3 separate regions of the Homo sapiens genome follow, and regions 1 and 2 are each linked to region 3. Evidence: fine-mapped expression QTL. A gene starts in region 3. Each other region holds a variant in brackets. All regions are shown on one strand. Distances are from middle to middle.

Region 1 (4,248 bases), 140 kb after region 3:
TGGTTTTTATTTTAATTCTCTTGGCAGATTGTGATGTGGCTCTTTTTGAGCTGGCCCTTCACCTTCGAGAGAAAAGGCTGGACATTGAGGAGGCTTTAGTTGAAGAAAAGAAAATTGTTGATAACCTCAAAAAGGAATATGATACATTGTCAAAAAAAGTATGGTGATCTGTTTACTTATTTATCCTCTCAAAATGCTACACATCCTCCTAGCTATAATATTGCCTTTTTATAGCAATGACAATATTAGGACTTCTCAGAAAAGAAACATTTCAAATGTTAAGGGCAGGTTTTTTTCTCCCTAAATTGTGGTGGGGGACATTGCTTTTTTGATCATTGGACTTACTTTATGTCAGTCATTGGTCTCCAGACTTTTCTGATGACTGTATAAGTAAAAAAAATGAAAATGGAGCCCCTCCCCATACAATAAATGTATATGTATTTATAAATTGTATTTATGAACTATTATGTATCTTGTACAATAGGAAACATCCACAAAAACAGAAATTAAATAGAATGAGATAAAAATAAATAGAAATAGAAACTCTGACATTTTCAATTTATACCCCAATAGATGATTTTGTTGATCATCTGGGGTGCATGCATCCCATGTTGGAGACCACCAATTTCTGCCTTAATCTGCTCACTTTCCCTCTTAGGTACTCTTGTCTAGAGCAACATCACTTAACTTCATTCATGTTCAGAAATATTTTTGATGTATTATTTCTCCTCTTGCAAACAGGAAATGATTTGGAAAACTTTCAGGTTTTCTAGGACATGGAGAATGTGCTTTAGAAATACTATAGTTAGCAGTTTCATTGCTTTAAAGCACTGAAACTTTCTTTAATTTGTTGAAGTCATGACCAAAAAAGACTCCCACCATTCTGTCAAAGACATTCCATGCTGATGGGCTGCTTTTCATGCAGAAAATAAAAGGGAGATGAGGACATGTCTTCTGGGCTCTTATTCACAAAACTTTATAACTCTGGAGTCATAGAAATGACTGAAGAGTGATGTGGATCATAACTTGGCAGAAAGAAAATAATATGCATTCCTGAGTTGCAAACTGGGATCATGCACTTAATCACAGCCCAACAAAGCAGATTCTGCTCATGCTTTACTTCCTCCCAAGATGCCTTCATTCACCATCTTTAGATGTATGTTTATTGAGTCTTGTCACCATTTCACAACACGGGGCTTTCTACAGGTGAAAATTGTGGCAACTAATCTGAATGCAGCAGAGGAGGCCCTGGAGGCTTATCAGCGAGAGAAGCAGCAGCGGCTGAATGAACTGCTAGTTGTGATTCCGCTCAAGCTCCACCAGGTGATGCGTCTGGGGAGGCTGCTCCATCCTGTCCGAGAAGAGTCATCACACCCAAGCTTTTCAGAGAAAGATTCATAGTTCACTAATGGGGAGAATCGTGGTTCTTTGTTGAGAATTCCACCTGTAGAATGACACCTACACTTGTCTTATCCACTGTCAGATTGTTATAAAAGAGTAACATCAAAACATGGATATTTCCCTGTGGCCCATTAGCACTTTGGAAATCAGTCATTTCAAGTCTAGAGAAATGAGGAGCCTATGATTTAAGAATGCAATGGCTCAGAGGGTGAAATCTTGGCTCTTATACCCATGCCACTTTTCACACCATCTTTATCTATACATGGACTAATCATGCTAAAATGACCTTTGCTTAGTCTCTACTCATTGGTGAGGGAGGTCAGGACAAAAGGAAAATATTTTCTCTTTTTTACTTTTCTTGTTCATTTCTATTTGAATTGCAACTTATATTAAATTGCAGGAATACATATCATTAAGAGAAAAGGCTTATTGTATTCTCCTTTGTCAGGTTAAGAGAAAAAGCTGTATTTTAGGAAAACAACAACAACAAGATCAGCCTTATATATGTTTTGTGTAACCTGACCCAAACTGGATGAGCTAAATGGAGCGGTTTGCCTAGTATGCCAGCCCTGAAATGTTTGTCACATCATTATGCAGTAGATAATAGGCATGATCTGTGTGGGAGGATTTGCTATCCCCACAGAGACGTGATGTGGCTTTCTGTCTGACAGCATCTTTCTGTGTTTGCCTGGCTACTGTTACTCAGTAAGGAAGACGTAGAAGCCCAAAGGCAAGGAGCTAAACAAGGGGCAAAGAAGGAAGTGCACCTCTTATGCTTTCTGTTGCCATACAAAATCTGTGTTTTTGT[C/T]TATTTTCTTTTGATTTGTTTTATGCTTGTAGATAGAGTATGTGGTATTTGGAGAAATACCTAGCGATCTTTCTGGTACTTTGGTCTTCTCTAACCATGCCTTGAGACGGCTGCAAGAACGAATCCATGAGCTCCAGGAGGAAAATTCCAAGCAGCAAAAACTTAACAAAGAATGGAGAGAGAGACGTAAACAGCTCATCCGAGAAAAGAGAGAAATGACAAAAACCATACACAGTGAGTATCTAAGCCCACAGCCTTGCTAGTAAGGTTTATTGGTAAGAAAGGGAATTATCCAGGTGACTGTCTCCAACTGTGAAAATAGTAATTGCAGACTCAGAACCACTGAGAAGGGAAACAAGAACACCACAACATCTTCCTACTCACCGTTTCTCCTGATGCCATGAAAAGCTCGCTTTCCTGTTTTAAAGGGAGAAATCTTTTGTCATAGAATCATCTTCTCTTTGTGTATGATTAAAATATAGAATAATACAATAATAACCCAAGTGCAAGACTACCCAGGTTAAGAAAGAAAACGTTGAGATACAATCGAAGCCCCATCTCTTTCTAATGCAATTCTGTGGCTCCTTCCTCGGGGTTCACCACCAGGTATGCACACATACATATGGATGTGTCCACACACAATATGGAGACCTACCTTGCATATTTTTAACTGTGCAAAATGATATTTATATCATTTTGTGGTTCACTTTATTAAACCAATTTTTAAGTTATCCATAAACTACAGATAGTTTATTCACTTTACTGCTACAAAATTCCATTTATGAATATTAAATATTTTATTTAGCCTCCTATTGATGGATATTTAGGATATTTATTATTTTTCATTATTATAGACAATGTTACAGGAAACCTTCTTGTACACATCTCCCTGTGCACATGTGTGAGAAGGTGAATCCTAGTACTGGGTCTCTGGGTTACAGAGGGATATGTACATTTTCAGCTCTCCTGGATATTGCCAGGTTGCCCCCAAAGTGGTTGAACAAATTTCTCCTCCCCTAGCAATGTGTGAGAATTGCCCAGGCTCCATATTGTCATCAACAGTTGATATTATCAGACTTTAATATTTTTGCCAGCCTGTGAGATGTTAAATTACATTTCATTGTGGTTTTTATTCACATTTTTTGATTGCTGGTGAAGTTAAATATCTTTACATACATATATTTGCCATTTATTTATTTTATTTTCTGTAACTTGCCTGTCCTATCCTTTGTCCATTTTTGATTTCTATTTTTTGCTTTTAAATTGATTTTAGGGAGTTCTTAATATATCCTTTTTGTCCATTGAATGCACTGCAAATCTCTTCTAGTTTGTAACTTGTCTTTTTTCTTTTCTTTTTCTTTTTTTTTTTTTTTTTTTGAGATGGAGTCTCACTCTATCGCCCAGGCTGGAGTCTCACCTCTATCGTGGTGGCGTGATCTTGGCTCACTGCAACCTCTGCCTCCTGGGCTCAAGCAATTCTCCTGCCTCAGCCTCCCGAGTAGCTAGGATTACAGGCGCCTGCCACCACGCCCGGCTCATTTTTGTGTTTTTTAGTAGAGATGGGGTTTCTCCATGGTGGCCAGGCTGGTCTCAAACTCCCAGGTGATCTGCCTGCCTTGGCCTCCCAAAGTGCTGGGATTACAGGCGAGAGCCACAGTGCCTGGCTATCTTTTTTTTTTTTTTTTTTTTTTTACTTTGTCTAGTGTATCTTTGGATACAGATGTTTTAAATCTTAATATAGTAATTTTTTTAATCAATCTACTTATTTATGGTTTGTGCACTATGTGTATGTGTGTGTGTCTTGCTTAAGAAATCCATTCCTATTTTGAGGTCATAAAGATATTTTTTGGTCCAACCATTCCACTACTGGGAAATGAAATTAGTAATCAGTATGCAGAAGAGACATCTGCAGTCCTATGTTCACTGCAGTATTATTCACAATTGCCAAGACACGGAATCAACCTAAGTGTCCATAAACAGATGAGTGGCTAAAGAAAATGTGGTATATGTACACAATGAAATACTATTCAGCCTTAAAA
Region 2 (4,248 bases), 67 kb after region 3:
GTTGACCCCTCATACTTCTCAAATGCTTTCTTCTCTTGGCTTCTAAGACATTACACTCTTCTGACCATTCCATTTCAGCCTCTTTTGCTGGCTTCTCATGTGCAGAACAAGCTTTGAAGTTTGAAATACTCCAGAGTGCGGCCTTGGGCCCCCTCTTTCTTGCTAAGGTAACTACACAGTCTCATGGCTTTAAATATCACTTATCTTCCAGTGAATCTCAAATATTTATTTCTAGTCCTGACCTCTCCCCTCCACTTAGACTTGTATATCCAACTTGACAATGCTCCTTGGCACCTCAAAATTAACCTGTCCAAGACATTACTTTTAAACCATACATGTCCCATACAAACCTGCTCCATCTCCATCTCAGTAAATGAGACAATCATCCACTTAGTTACTATGCCAAAACCTCGACGTTATTAAGGATTCTTCTCTTTCCTTTACTATTTGATACCCTTATATCGAAAGTAGGTCTCTTGTAAACAGTATATGGTTAGGCTTAAAAGAATCCTATAGGATTATATTTGTCTTTTAAAAAAGTACTATGTTCATTTATATTTAATGTAATTACTAATATATTTTAGTTTAAATCTACTATCTTACTAATTATTTCTATTTGTCGCACTCATTCTAAATTTATTTTCTTTCCCTTTTTTTTACCTTCTATTGAGTGATTAGGTAATTTTTTCCACAGTTTTCTTCCTCTACTAGATTATTAGTTATACATTCTTTTACTATTCTTTTAGAGGTGATTTTATTTATTTATTTATTTTTATTTTTGAGACAGAGTCTCACTCACTCTGTTGCCCAGGCTGGAGTGCAATGGTGCCGTCTCAGCTCACTACAGCCTCTACTTCCCAGGCTCAAGTGATTCTCCTGCCTTAGCTTCCCGAGTAGCTGAGATTACAGGTGTGTGCCAACACGCGTGGTTAAAAGGTGTTAGTTTCTTCATTTTTATTTTGTTTGCAGTTCGTAGCACTCTAAATTTCAACATATCTCTTCAGTTTTAGAAAATTCTCAGCCATTATCTACCACAGTGTTGCTTCTGGCCTATCTTTTCACTCTCTTGTTCTGGGACCCCAACTTTATGTGTATTACATCCTTCTCATGTTCCGTATGTATCTTACATCATTCAAGAAGATTTTCCATCCTTTTTGTCTTTCTCCATGCTTTAGCCTATTTTTTCTGATCTCTGTTCCAGCTTCGTAACTTTTATTTTAAAGTTTGTTTTTCCAATTGCTTTTTATTGAAGTAAAAGACATATAACATAAAATTGACCATCTTAACCATTTTTAAGTGTACAGCTCAGTAGTAGTAAACGTATTCACAATGTTGTGACGTCATCACCAACATCTGTTCTACCGTCCTCCTCATCCTGTAACACTGAAACTCCCATACTCATCAAATGATAACTCCTGATTCTTCCCTTCTCTCAGCCCCTGGCAACCATACTTTCTTTCTTATGATTTTGACTACTCTAAGTATCTCAAATAAGTGAAATTATATAGTATCTGTCTCTTTATGACTGGCTTGTTTCACTTGGGATAATTTCCCCAAGTTTCATCCGTGATGCAGCATATGTCAGAATTTCCTTTCAAGGCCAAATAATACTCCACTTTAAGTATGTACCGTATTTTGCTTATATACTCAGTCATAAATAGACATTTGGGGCCAGGCACGGTGGCTCACGCCTGTAATCCTAGCACTTTAGGAGGTCAAGGCGGGTGGATCACTTGAGGCCAGGAGTTCCAGACCAGCCTGGCCAACATGGCAAAACCGCATCTCTACTAAAAATAGAAAAAATTAGGTGGACGGAGTGGCTCAAACCTGCAATCCTAGCTACCCGGGAGGCCGAGGCAGGAGAATTGCTTGAACTTGGGAGGTGGAAGTTGCAGTGAGCCGAGATGGCACCACTGCATTCCAGCCTGGGTGACAGAGTAAGACCCCATCTCAAAACAAACACACAAAAATAGACACTTGGATTGTTCCCACCTTTTGGCTATTGTGAATAATGCTGCTATGAATGAGGTGGGTGTTCAAATATCTCTTTGAGACCCTGCTTGAACCCTGGAAATGATTATTTCTTTCTCCATAAGTCTATGAGACTGCAGATAGCTTTGTCCAGCTTCTTAGCCTCTCAGCTGCCACATATATGTAACAAACCTGCACGTGTGCACATGTACCCTGGAACTTAAAGTATAATAATAAATAAATAAATAAATAAATAAATAAA[TAAATAAAA/A]GAAATTGACAGTTGCTCCAGGGAGTAAAGCAGTGCCAAATGCCAGGCTCACTTTTGGCTTTCCCTCTTTTTTGGATCTTGCTATTTTGGTAGCTTGCCAATGCCTTCAAACACATTTACAAAATTTGTTCTGGTTGTTCTCAGTGGGAGAGTTTGGCTGAAACAATCTAGTCTGCTGTTGTCAAAAGTGAAAACTTAGTAATTTGATTTTCAGAGGTGATCATGATGTTACATTCTCTTTCTTATTTATTCTTTTATTGTTCATAAAGTTGTTCTGACCCTTAATTTGTTTCCTATAATAAGGAATCTCAGTAATAAGGAAATTAGAGTTGGAGCAATATAGCTCTTCCAGTTGATCATTCATCTTCTCACTACATGGATAAATTTTTCTGAAATAGCCCTTTCTGGAAAATTAACAGTGTTTACAGTTACCTTAAACTGCAAACTAGCTGTAAAAACGAGGAACTGCAAAACCCTAATATTTGTTCCTGCTTATTCAGAATAATGCTTGAAGAAATAAAATGAAATTCTGTAGGTAGGGAGTCAGAGGTGATATCTCTCTTGTATTGGCTTTTAAATGAAAACAAATCATCATGAGGTTTTTATTATAATTATATAGTTGTGTATAAATGGATAAAGGAGATGCTTTATAGAAATAATAAATCTATAATCATAGAAATTATGTAGAAGTAGATGTTTGAAAACATCTATTTTATGTTTTCAAATTTGAAATAATCAAAAAATTCTCATGCATTTATGTGTGTTATATTCAAGTACCACCTTCTATGTTACTTATCTCTTTTCTAGGGTGGCTATGATTCTGGTTTTCTATATCACTGTGAGTTCCCCCCTTGTGATGAAAGCAGTGATTTCAAAGAACAAAAAGATGAACCTATTGATGTCCGTTATCTTGCGGATACAGAGGACAATCCCATCCAAACTATCACTTTCAAGTGAGCAGTATTTCAAAAAGCTTTAAAAAAACCATATCCTGTTAGTGTCTATGCTTTTGTTCATCATGGATATTGTCAATTTTTAAAGATCCATCCAAATGAAGGGGTACTCAAAAAATATTTGGTTAAATAAATCAAATGAATAAATAAAATCAAAGCTAATACTGAAATTATATTTAAATACCCCCACCAAATATTCTGTCAGTATTTTTGTTTATCGCACAATTGAATTGTATGGATTTACATTCTGCTACCTAGGAGGATGCTACTTACATAGTCAGAAATGAAGGTTCAGGGTTACAGTTATTCTGGAGAAATCACAAATGAATCATTAGCCCTTTAATAATTGAGAACTAGGCAAATATGCCAGTTATTCTTCTGACGACCCAATATAATAGCTTCAAATTTCAAATTGGCCTTTTTTCTCTATTCTTTTGTATTAGTTTGCTAGGGCTGCCACAATAAAACACCACAGACTAGGTGGCTTATACAGCAGAATTTTTTTTCTCACAGTTCTGGAGGCTAGAGTTCCAAGATCAAGGTGTCAGCAGGTTGGTTTCTCCTGAGGCCTGTCTCCTTAACTTATAGATATTTGCCTTCTTGCATGATCTTTTCTCTGGGTGCATGTCATCCCTTATGCTTCTGTCTGTATCCTAATGTCCTCTTCTTCTTTTTTTTTATTATTATACTTTAAGTTCTAGGGTACATGTGCACAACGTGCACATTTGTTACGTAGGTATACATATGCCATGTTGGCTTGCTGCACCTATCAACTCATCATTTAAATTAGGTATTTCTCCTAATGCTATCCCTCCCTCTGCCCCCCACTCCCCAACAGGCCCTGGTGTGTGATGTTCCCTACCCTGTGTCCATGTGTTCTCATTGTTCAATTCCCACCTATGAGTGAGAATATGTGGTGCTTGGTTTTCTGTCCTTGTGATAGTTTGCTGAGAATGATGGTTTCCAGCTTCATCCATGTCCCTGCAAAGGACATGAACTCATCCTTTTTTATGGCTGCATAGTATTCCATGGTGTATATGTGCCACATTTTCTT
Region 3 (4,248 bases):
GCCCCAGAAAGCTGCTAATAACTTGCTCAACCTGAAATTTACAGTTTTCCAAATTACAGGTTGGCAGAGATACTGGATTGATAACAACATCCACAGTTATCATATAATCATTCTTATGCTGTAAACAAAATTATTTTGGTTAGCAGAATTTAATAATTAACTGTTAACTACATACTAGGCAATATTGTAGCCACTTTATGTGCTTCATGACACCTTATGGGATAGGTACTATTATCCTCATTTTGCAGATGAGGAAACTGAGGTACAAGGAGGTATTTTCTCAAGGTCACACAACTAGGGAGTGGTGGCATTAGAATGGGAACATAGGCAGTCTTTCTCCAAAGCCTATGCTGTGCTGCCTCTTGTTGGAGAGTAAACCTGTTTTACAGTGTGTGTAGTATGGAAGCAGCATAATAATAAGAATAGCTGTTCCTTATTGAGCCATTACTGTGGCAGACACCGTACTATAAGCTGTGGTATCACCATTATCTCATTTGAATCTCATAGTAGACCTATCAGTTAGAGGTATGTAAATGCTTCCTCCTCTCCCAGCACCTTTACAGATGAGGATGCTGAGCCCTAGAGGTGAAGAAAGTTGTCTAATGACAGAGTGCTTGTAAGAGGTAAAGCCAAGACTTGAAGCTCTTTCTTGCAGTTACTGGATTTCTCCTAATTTACGGGAACTAATACAGTACAGTAGCTAAGGATGCAAGTACTGAAACCAGAAATCTTGCCTCAAATGCCATTTCTGCCACTTGAGCTGTGTACTTTGGACAAATTAATCTAATCTTTCCCATTTGAAAGTCAGACATAATGTCTTCCCTAGAGGCTTGTGAGGATTAAGTGAGGCAAGTGTATGTAAATGGGCTGAGATCAGAGCTTGGCTCACAACACTCAGTAATGATCACTGCCAATTTTTTTTGGTATATAAATAAATAAATACACTATTTCCCCCATGTTTCCAATTTTTAAGACATTGTATAGTGAATTTATTGTATCTTTCTCAGATTAACAATTGCACACAGTGCTTGAAATTTAGAGGTATTTCACCTGAAAAGATGTCTAGAGATTGAAAGAAAACATGCTGGGCATATGATTTGAAAATATAAATAACATGCTATTTAAAAATAAGTTTACCCTATGTTTTCTATCTTTTCTGGCACCTAGATATACCATTTAATAAGTAATAGCAAGGATAATCATTTTTTTAAGCCCTGGAAAATCTTGATTAAAGAGGACATTTCAGTATTGCAAATAAATGCATGGTATTTGTGTAACATTGTGGAAACTAATAAACACAAATTGTATTATAGCAATTTTTTCTTGCCAATTTTATTGACAAATAATTTATATACAATAAATGACATCCATTTAAAGAGAACAGTTTATTGGCTTTTGGCAGTTGTATATACCCATGAAATTACCACCACAATGAAGACACAGCATTTCTATCATTTCTAAGATTCCTTGTGTCTCTTTCCAGTGCATCTCACTAAGTCCTAGGCAACCACTTTGCCCAAGTCTCTAGACTATCTTGGATGTGGAATGACTTTGTGTATGTTTAACTTTTGAAGAAACCTCTCAAATAGTTTTCCAAAGTGGTTATGCCATTTTACATTCCCAACAGCAGTGTATGCGAGTTCCAGTTGCTCCATATCCTTCTGCATTTGGTGTTAGCAATCTTTGAAGTTTTACCCCTTCACGTGGATGTGGAGTTATGTGTATTGTGGTTTCTATTTCCCTTATGACTACTTTTAAGCATCTATCCATGTGCTTATTGGCCATACATATATCTGATTTGGTGAAGTATTCAAATCCTTTGCCCATTTAAGAAATTGGGTGGTTTTTTCTTATTGAATTATAAGAGTTCTTTATACATTCTGTATACAAAGTCCTTTGTCACATATTGGAATGACCATTTTAAAACAAGTATTTGGTAACTAATAACGTTAGGCTAGGTACTTTAAAAAACAATATGACCACAGTACTACAGAGAGGTTGAACAAACTGCTAAACCTAGAAATCTGTCAAGGGAGGCCTATACTTTTGTGCCCAGAGCGCTGCGACCAAGAAACCCACAACATAAAACCTGATTTACTCTTAAAAGCCAACAGAGATAATATAGTTTTAAAAATAACAAAAATCCCACGATGTATCTTTGTTGTTGATGTTGCCGGCAAGCTGCCTACTATCTCCCAGGACCCCTCTTAAAATCGAAGTTAAAACCTCAACATAGGAACGCCGCGATCAGGGCTCCGTTGGGCCATTTTGGAATATCAGGCAGGTATCTTCGACGGTATTCATGTCATTTAATTATCTACATGACGTCCTTTAGGGGATAATAAACTCGTCGGGCTTTTCTGTTTGGCTTTGAACCAGTGTCATGAGGCGGAGAAGGCCCGACCAAAGGGCGGATAGGTACCGGGTTCCCGGAGAGCTGGACGCCGGCCGCGCATGCGCCCCACGGCCCGCCCTGGTTCCGCCTCCCTGGAAGAGGGGTGGCGTTGTCTCGGTAACCGGAGTAAACGGAGGCCTCCGGCAGACGCTGTGAAGAGAGGAGCCGCGGCGGTCAGTACCTTCGGTGAGTTTGGACCTCAGCAGCCGGCAGTTTCCACACCCTCCCCCTTAAATCTGTGGCTCAGAGGGCAGTGAACCCCACTTGGGCTTCTCTCAGGCTGGACCAGTGTTATAGCCTTCGTCCTCCCTGCGGTAGCTCAGCAAACTTTTGAAGCCACGAGTATTCTCAGGCTCGGAGCTAGACACTGTGTGCACGGTTCCTGCCTGCAAGACCCTGTCAGTCTGACCGGGCGGAAGCCAGCCAGGCAGCAGGAGCACAGCTTAGACCCGGCCAAGTCAGAGCAGCAGCGAGTCAGCTGGGAAGGTGCTGGGGCTCCCCGCTCCAGTGAGACACCTGCCCTGCGCTCAGCTGGGTGCGACGCTTGGCACGCTGGGCCCTCTGCACTTCGGCTTCCTCATCTCCAGAAAGAAAGGTGATAATGTGACCTCATGGAGTTATTATTAAACAGGATAATACAAGTAAAGTGCTTAGCACATGCATGACACATAGTAGGTGCACATAAATATTTGTCGGATAATAGGTAAAGACAGTCGCATACATGTGTGCTGCTCAGTGTGTCCAGTCTATCATGAGTTGCTAAGGGTGCGTACTGATGAAAATCTTTGAGAGGAGAAGGCTAAGGAGGCTAGGGAGAGAGAGAGGGTGACTGTAGCTGGGCTGCAATAAGCTACAGACCCTCTGACAAGGGACCTTTACACCAGACCGAGGAATCTGAGCTCTTATTTGATAGCAGTGATGAGCCATTAGAGGTTTTAAGCAAGAGTGACACATTAAAAGCTGTGTTTTAGAAATACAAGCGATAGTGTAGAAAATGGGTTACAGAAGGGAAGACAAAGTATGACGGTACAGTAATGGTAGAGGTGAGACACAGTGAGGACTGGAACTACAGAGGGACAGCAGGGACAGTAGGAATGAAGGGAGGGGAGGAATTCAAAAGGCTTAATCACTGGACACCAAGTAACAGGACTTGGAAATCATCTACATGAATTGGGTGAGAGGAACGGATTCAGAGTAAATACGCTGCTTTCTCATCTGTAAAATAATGACAGTAATAATAATGGATAGCAAGACTTTGTCTCAAAAATAATAATAATAGGCTGTGCGCGGTGGCTGACGCCTGTGATCCCAGCACTTTGGGAGGCGGAGGTGGGTAGATCACCTGAGGTCAGGAGTTCGAGACAAGTCTGGCCAACATGGGGAAACCCGTCTACTAAAAATACAAAAATTAGCCGGGCGAGGTGGTGTGCGCCTGTAATCGCAGCTACTCGGGAGGCTGAGGCACGAGAATCGCTTGAACCAGGGAGGTGGAGTTTGCGGTGAGCTGAGATCGCAGCACTGCACTCCAGCCTGGGTGACAGAGCCAGACTCCATCTCAATACATAAATACATAAATAAAATAATAATGGTACCTACCTCATAGGGTCGTTTTGAGAATTGTACGATAATATGTGTAGAATTTCTTAGAACTGTACTTGACACATAGTAAACATTAAAAAAGACAAGCTATTACTTTTTTTCTCCACAGCTGTATTTCACATTGCAAAGTAAAAACCGAGAGTCTGTTTTATACATCAGTCACTGTGAATCTTAAATAACCACCTCTGGCACACTGCTGGGATTGAGTGAGCTTGTGAGCATGAGGACCAGAACCTGGACTCTGGTGAATGAAT

Evidence for each region. PIP is the estimated chance that this variant, and not a neighbour inherited with it, causes the effect. A credible set is the group of variants that fine-mapping cannot tell apart.
Region 1: its variant is the best candidate, but not a certain one, in a credible set for the expression of CFAP44 in nasal epithelium (TOPMed, PIP 0.81).
Region 2: its variant is the best candidate, but not a certain one, in a credible set for the expression of CFAP44 in whole blood (INTERVAL, PIP 0.75).

What each region holds. Positions count from the first base shown.
Region 1 is chr3:113,302,111-113,306,358 of GRCh38, reverse strand. It overlaps CFAP44 (cilia and flagella associated protein 44), which reads left to right. Exons shown (of 35, transcript NM_001164496.2): 30 at 28-158; 31 at 1,207-1,323; 32 at 2,242-2,443. It overlaps SPICE1-CFAP44 (SPICE1-CFAP44 readthrough (NMD candidate)), which reads left to right. Exons shown (of 52, transcript NR_183050.1): 46 at 28-158; 47 at 1,207-1,323; 48 at 2,242-2,443. Among named protein-coding and RNA genes, the nearest start is that of BOC, 93 kb to the right of the region's middle. The variant C/T (reference allele first, on the strand shown) is at 2,210.
Region 2 is chr3:113,372,357-113,376,604 of GRCh38, reverse strand. It overlaps CFAP44 (cilia and flagella associated protein 44), which reads left to right. Exons shown (of 35, transcript NM_001164496.2): 18 at 3,049-3,194. The region is part of intron 35 of SPICE1-CFAP44 (SPICE1-CFAP44 readthrough (NMD candidate)); the gene reads left to right. Among named protein-coding and RNA genes, the nearest start is that of CFAP44-AS1, 30 kb to the left of the region's middle. The variant TAAATAAAA/A (reference allele first, on the strand shown) is at 2,234.
Region 3 is chr3:113,439,786-113,444,033 of GRCh38, reverse strand. CFAP44 (cilia and flagella associated protein 44) reads left to right here and starts at 2,541. Exons shown (of 35, transcript NM_001164496.2): 1 at 2,541-2,581. SPICE1 (spindle and centriole associated protein 1) reads left to right here. Exons shown (of 18, transcript NM_144718.4): 18 at 1-1,316. SPICE1-CFAP44 (SPICE1-CFAP44 readthrough (NMD candidate)) reads left to right here. Exons shown (of 52, transcript NR_183050.1): 20 at 2,380-2,581.